Homo sapiens: one gene and its partner. The protein of the gene in region 2 purifies or fractionates together with the protein of the main gene of each other region. This does not show direct contact. Each region holds a gene or a part of one and is shown on either strand. Other genes may lie near its edges.

Region 1 (3,500 bases), on a different chromosome or scaffold from region 2:
TGACAGACAGACAGGAAAAAAGAGAGACAGACACAGAAGTACTGGATTCTACTGAATCCTCTGAGATAGGAATTATTAGTAGCCCATTTTAGAGATGGGCAAACTGAAGTTCATGGATGCTAAAGGACTTGCCCAATGTCACACAGCTTGTGAGCGGTATAAGCTGGAATGCAGGCCGGGCGCAGTGGCTCACGCCTGTAATCCCAGCACTTTGGGAGGCCAAGGCAGGTGGACCACCTGAGGTCAGGAGTTCGAGACCAGCCTGGCCAACATAGTGAAACCCCCGTCTCTACTAAAAATACAAAAAAAAAAAAAAAAAATTAGCGGGGCATGGTGGAGGGCCCCTGTAATCCCAGCTACTCAAGAGGCTGAGGCAGATAATTGCTTGAACCCGGGAGGCGGAGGCTGCAGTGAGCTGAGGTTGCCCCACTGCACTCCAGCCTGGGCGACAGAGCAAGACTCCATCTCAAAAACATAAATAAATAAATAAAATAAAATAAAGGCTGGGATGCAAACCTATGCCTGGCTACCTCTGTGGCTGCAATGTCCCCACACCGGAGGGAGGGCCAGACCCAGGGCCTGGTCCATGGAGGAGTCCCAGAAAGAATGGGACAGGCAGTGCAGAGGGAGGTTGGGGGGAAGCGGTCCCCCTGTGTCAACACCCTAGAGGGATGTCCAGGGCCCTGGCTGGGATGGGTGGCTCACCGGGGGTTAACCTGGCTGACGGGAATGTTGAGCCGGGCGGCGATGTCCTCCACAGTCTCGTTGCCCTCAGAGATGATGCCCACACCCTTGGCAATGGCCTTGGCCGTGATGGGGTGATCGCCGGTGACCATGATGACCTGCAGGCATTGTTTTTTAGGGATGGCCTCTCCCGCCCCACGCCTGGCTTTGCCTCCCCCAGCCACCCCAAGCCACACCTTGATGCCTGCGCTGCGACACTTGCCCACCGCGTCAGGGACGGCTGCCCGGGGTGGGTCGATCATGGACATGAGGCCCACAAAGCAGAGGTTGTCCGTGGTGAAGTTCACGTCATCACAGTCGAAGGCAAAGCCCTTGGGGAACTGCTCCTCGGGCAGGTAATAATGGCAGAAACCTAGTGGCAGGGAAGGGTTGGGGTGTGAGGGTCCCAGCCTCGGAACCTCCGCCCCATGCCCCTAGATGTCTGCATCGCCCGCATTCCATCTCCCCATCAGCAAGACGGCCAGTCAGCATTCATTTCCTAGGATACCTTCCCCTCTCATCCATCCATTCATTCATTCATTCATTCATTTACAGTATATTCTGGGAGGCCCTGGGCTGAGACAGGCTTTGGGCAGCATCACAACCCTCCTTGCCCTCCAGGGACCCCAGAGCCCGCCCGGCAGCCTCGCACCAAGCACGCGCTCGCCCAGGCCACCGAGCTCAAGGTAGGCATTCTGGAAGGCCTCCTTCATTTCCTCGTCCAGAGGCTGCTCCTTGCCCTGTAGCAGGATGGTGGAGCAGCGGTCCAGGATGCGCTCGGGGGCACCCTTCATCACCAGCAGGTATCGGTTGTCGTTGGGGTCCTCGGTCTCATGGATGGAGAGCTGGGGACCGATCAGAGGGTGGCGTGCCTGAGCCACGCAGACACCAGGAAGCTCCCTGCCCCATCCTGTCCCCTGTCCAGAGCCACGGGTGCCAGGATAGGCCCACACCAGGGCTCCCCCACACTCTCTCACAGAGACCTCTGCTCATTCCTGTCCGCTCTGTCTATGTCATGGATATATATTTCTTTTTCTTTTTCTTTTTTTCTTTTTTCTTTTTTTTTTGAGACAGAGTCTCGCTCTGTTGCCCAGGCTGGAGTGCAGTGGCACGATCTCAGCTCACTGCAACCTCCACCTCCTGGGTTCAAGCAATTCTCCTGCCTCAGCCTCCGGAGTAGCTTGGGATTACAGGCACCACCACCACACCCAGCTAACTTTTGTATTTTTAGTAGAGACGGGATTTTGCCATGTTGGCCAGGCTGGTCTTGAACTCCTGGCCTCAAGTGATCTGCCCTCATCGGCCTCTCAAAGTGCTGGGATAACAGGCATAAGCCACCACGTCTGTGCTCCCCTCCTCCCACCCTGTTTTTTTTTTTTAAGACAGGGTCTCACTCTGTCACCCAGGCTGGAGAACAGTGGCGAGATCACAGCTCACTGCAGCCTTGATCTCCCAGGCTCATGCGATCCTCCCGCTTCGGTCTCCCACGTAGCTGGGACCACAGGTCCACACCACCATGCCTGGCTAATTTTTTATAGAGACATGCTCTCCCTATGTTGCCCACGCTGGTCTCCATCTCCTGAGTTCAAGCGATCCTCCTGCCTCGGTCTCCCAAAGTGCTGGGATTACAGGCGTGAGCCACCACACCCAGCTGTATGCTTCCATTTTTATGAAATGTCCAGAATAGGCAAAACCATACGGACAGAAAGTAGGTTAGTGGTTGCTTAGGGCTGGGAGTGTCGGGGAGGAGGGGGCGGGTGACAGCTGAGAGATGTGGGGTTTCTTTTTGGAGGTGATGAAAATGCTCTAAAATTGACTATGTGGATGGCTGCCTATATCTGCGAATATACTAAAACTATTAAATTATACACTTAGAGGGACGAGCTATGGTATGTTAATTATATCTTAATAAAGTTATTTTAAAAGCTCTGAGTCAACTCCTGTCTCTCTTTGGCTGAGAGCCCCCTGGAGGCTTGTGTGCTCCTCAGAGTCACAGCCAAGTCCTCTCCATGCCCGTGGGGCCTGACAGGATCTGGCCAGCACCCACCACCCCCACCACGCTCCCTGGCTCCCAGCCCCTCTGCACTGGCTGGCTGGCTGGTGTTCAGATGCGTCAGCACACTCCCGCCTCTGGGCCTTTGCACAGGCTGTGCCTGCTACCGGAGCGCTCTTCCCCCAGACACCTGCAGGGTTCCCTCCCTCAGCACCACAACCACTACGATTACCTCCTCATGCCTTTGTTATTGTCTGTCTTCTAGAACCAGAGCGTAAGTCTCAGAGAGGGGTGACTTCACCATGTCACTCACTACTGTGTGTACACCCAGCACCCAAAACAGGGCCTAACATGTGGTGGCTGGTCAAAAAATGTATACTGAATGGGCCGGGCATGATGGCTTATGCCTGTAATCCCAGCACTTTGGGAGGCCGAGGTGGGTGGATCACTTGAGGTCAGGAGTTCAAGACCAGCCTGGCCAACATGATGAAACCCCATCAATACTAAAAATACAAAAACTAGCTGGGTGTGGTGGTGCACGCCTCTAATTCCAGCTACTCGGGAGGCTGAGATATGAGAATCACTTGAACCCAGAGACAGAGGTTGCAGTGAGCCAAGATCACACCACTGCCTTTTAGCCTGGGCGACAGAGCAAGACTCCATCTCAAAAAAAAGTTTACTGAGGCCGGGCGCGGTGGCTCATGCCTGTAATCCCAGCACTTTGGGAGGCTGAGGCGGGCAGATCACGAGGTCAGGAGATCGAGACCATCCTGGCTAACACGGT
Region 2 (3,500 bases):
ACTCTCACCCAAAACACGCTTTGTAAAAGCAAATAAGATGTCAAGACAGTGGATCCGGTCACCACTCACCATGGGCAGATCCATGGCAATGAGCTGGACTTTGTTGGGTTTTGCTATGAGAAGAGGAGGATCCAGGGCATCTGCAAAATCAGAAAGTTTGGCAAACTCTATAAACTGGGTCGCATCGGGATCAAACTTCTCCCAAACCTCATAGAACATCTCAAAGTCATCCTCACTCAGAGGCTCTGCACTTTCTTCAGTAGCAACACTGAAGTTCTCCAGGATGACCGCGATGTACATGTTCACCACAACCAGGAAGGATATGATGATGTAACTGACAAAAAAGAAAATCCCAACAGATGGGTTCCCACAGTCTCCTTTAACTGAGCTTCCAGGGTGATCTTTGTCAGGGTCACAGTCTGGAGGTCCACTATTAAGAATAGGTGCTAGCAATCCATCCCAGCCAGCAGAGGTTGTAATTTGGAACAGGCAGATCATGCTGTTGCCAAAGGTCTCAAAGTTGAACATGTCATCGATCCCAACTTCCCTCTTAACATAGGCAAAATTGGACATCCCAAAGATGGCGTAGATGAACATGACCAGGAAAAGAAGGAGGCCGATGTTAAACAACGCAGGAAGGGACATCATCAAAGCAAAGAGCAGCGTGCGGATCCCCTTTGCTCCTTTGATCAGACGTAGGATTCGGCCAATCCTGGCAAGACGGATCACTCGGAACAGGGTAGGGGACACAAAATACTTTTCTATCAGTTCAGCCAGAAACATTCCTGTAGAAAATCAACAAATAACAAAAATATTGTTATACTTAATAGTAGCAAATGAAAGTTTACATAAGTACATTAGTTTTACAAAATGTGAACAGGACAGTTAGGTACATGTATATATGCAAATAATCTGCAATGTTTGTTGAGCAAAATGAAACTGGTATGTTTGGTGTTATAACATTTACATCTTTATATTAAATGAAGATAATAAGGGCCATTTTTCCTAGTTCAAGGAAAGCATCTATCAAAAAAATGACTCAACCCTGGAAGGTCCAAAGACATCATGAAGCATACAGTGGCCAAGTACAGAAATTAATTTATATGTCCAAAATACTAGTTCTAGTATTTGCATAAGAACTAAAGGTGTATGATTTTGGGTCAGGAATATGAGAGTTCTTTACTTTCTGAGATTCTATGTTATTTGGGAGTAGGCAGCGTGATGTACAGAAGAAAACATAGGCTTTGGAGACAGATGTACTTGGGACTGAATCCTGGCACTTGCTTTTATGCATGAGTAAATGGTGATAATATCAACTTTTTCTTGTGGTCAAACTGAACATTTACTAAGTCTTTTCTTCATGCTAGGCACAGTGCTAAGTGCATATATATACATAATCTGATTTAATCCTCACAATAACATTTTACAGAAAAATTCCTTGCAAAACCAGAGATTGGAGAGCTGAGGTAACTTCTCTTAGGTCACTGAGAAGGTAAGTAGTGTAAATAGGGAAGCTCCAGGTCAGATCTCAAATCTTACCTCTTAATGCTACCTCATAGCACTTATGTGAGAATCAAATGCAGTGGAACATTGTTACAATGTTCTATTCGACTAAAGAAAGTAGTTTAAAGAGTGCTATATAATTTTCCCCTCCATGTGAATGTTCTGTTTCCCCAAATAGGTAGAACCTTCTCTTAAATCTTCTTATATTTACTTCCAGTACCTCATTTAATATCTTATACATAAACACTGTATATATATATTTTTTCCAATAAATCTTTTGCATTCCTAGGACTTAATGTATGTATGTATCCTAACATTAATGTATCATTGATGATAACAAATCTGTTTTGGATTTTCAAACAAACTATCTGCTTCCAAAAAGAGATATTGCAAACCACAGAAAACTGTCTGCACCCAAAGATAACATGAAACTTATATATGTGTTATTATATATATAACTGCACATATACACTATTCCAATTATTTAAGAGGTCATATTTATGAATTATGTGACTACTTCAAATGATTTATGTATATATGTGTGTGGATTGATTGTTTATTCAAAGCAGTAACTGTCAATACCACAGGAGTATGACCAGGTACAAGACTATTCTACCAAAGTTGCAGTTATTGTCTTCTGAGATGAGAACAGATGAAAATATTAAATGAGAATAAATGAAAGCTGAAAATATAAATTCCTTGTATTCCACTCATCATTTCAAGCACAGCATGCAATTAGAGAAATGGCAAACTAAAACTAAAACAATGGACTATTAGATTTTTATTTGGGAGTTTGGGATGAATGAGAAAGATTAGTGAAAAACACCTCTAAAGTTTTAAAACACATATTTTTACCACTATATTCCTTAACTGAATAAAAGCACCTCTTCTTACCTACAATGGAGAGAATGACCACCACAAAATCAAAAATATTCCATCCAATAGTGAAATAGTAGTAACGAAGAGAGATCAGTTTCAGCACACATTCTCCAGTGAACAGAACAATAAACACCAGATTAATCCAGTACAGAATGTTTGTCATTTCTTGACTCTGGTCATCGGTTTCCACCATCATGGTGACCATGTTAAGGCAGATGAGGATCATGATGCTGATATCAAAGACTTGTTTGGTTACAAAATCAAAGACCATTCCTTGGAATTTGTTCTGGAACAAATAATATGTAAAAGTTCCATTAGAAACCTTAAAAAAAATCGAATTCAATTCTTCTGATTTTAAGAAAGCAACAAAAAATGTAGCTTTTATAAAAACACATCTTTAATCCTCACAACATTTTACAAAAAAAAAAATTCCTTGCAAAACCAGTGATTGGAGAGCTGAGGTAACTTGCCTTAGGTCACAAAGCAGGTAAGTAGTGTAAATAGGGAAGCTCCATGTCAGATCTCAAATCTTATCTCTCTCTCTTTTTTTTAATTTTTTTTATTTTTTGAGATGGAGTCTCGCTCTGTTGCACAGGTTGGAGTGCAGTGGCACGATCTTGGCTCACTGCAACCTCTGCCTCCCGGGTTCAAGCGATACTCCTGCCTCAGCCTCCTGAGTAGCTGGGATTACAGGTACATGCCACCATGCCCGACTACTTTTTGTAATTTTAGTAGAGACGGGATTTCACCGTATTGGTCAGGCTGGTCTCAAACTCCTGACCTAATGATCTGCCCACCTCGACCTCCCAAAGTGCTGGAATTACAGGCATGAGCCACCATGCCCAGCCTCAAATCTTATCTCTTAATGCTACCTCATAGCATTTATGTGAGGGTCAAATGCAATGGAACATTATTACAATGTTCTATTCTATTAAAGAAAGTAGTGTATTTTATTTTCGTTTTATACTTGGAAGAAAATTTTGTATATTGTATATTCAACTGTATTCAAATGTATTTGTTTTATTTATACTCACATTGATACCAGGTTTTATAAACTCACGTATTATGTTCTCAGTGCACAGAACACCATCATGTTATGACGGACAGTTAGTAAATAT

The links. The genes of interacting proteins can lie anywhere in the genome.
Region 1: the proteins of SCN2A (region 2) and ATP1A3 purify together in Homo sapiens (affinity purification with mass spectrometry; one large-scale study listed by BioGRID and IntAct). This does not show direct contact.

Annotation. Positions count from the first base shown.
Region 1 is NC_000019.10:41,977,231-41,980,730, forward strand, and holds part of ATP1A3 (sodium/potassium-transporting ATPase subunit alpha-3), read right to left. Parts: intron 1,569-3,500; coding exon 1,376-1,568; intron 1,097-1,375; coding exon 921-1,096; intron 843-920; coding exon 706-842; intron 1-705. UniProt on the Homo sapiens protein: This is the catalytic component of the active enzyme, which catalyzes the hydrolysis of ATP coupled with the exchange of sodium and potassium ions across the plasma membrane.
Region 2 is NC_000002.12:165,385,914-165,389,413, reverse strand, and holds part of SCN2A (sodium channel protein type 2 subunit alpha), read right to left. Parts: intron 2,669-3,500; coding exon 2,398-2,668; intron 786-2,397; coding exon 1-785. UniProt on the Homo sapiens protein: Mediates the voltage-dependent sodium ion permeability of excitable membranes.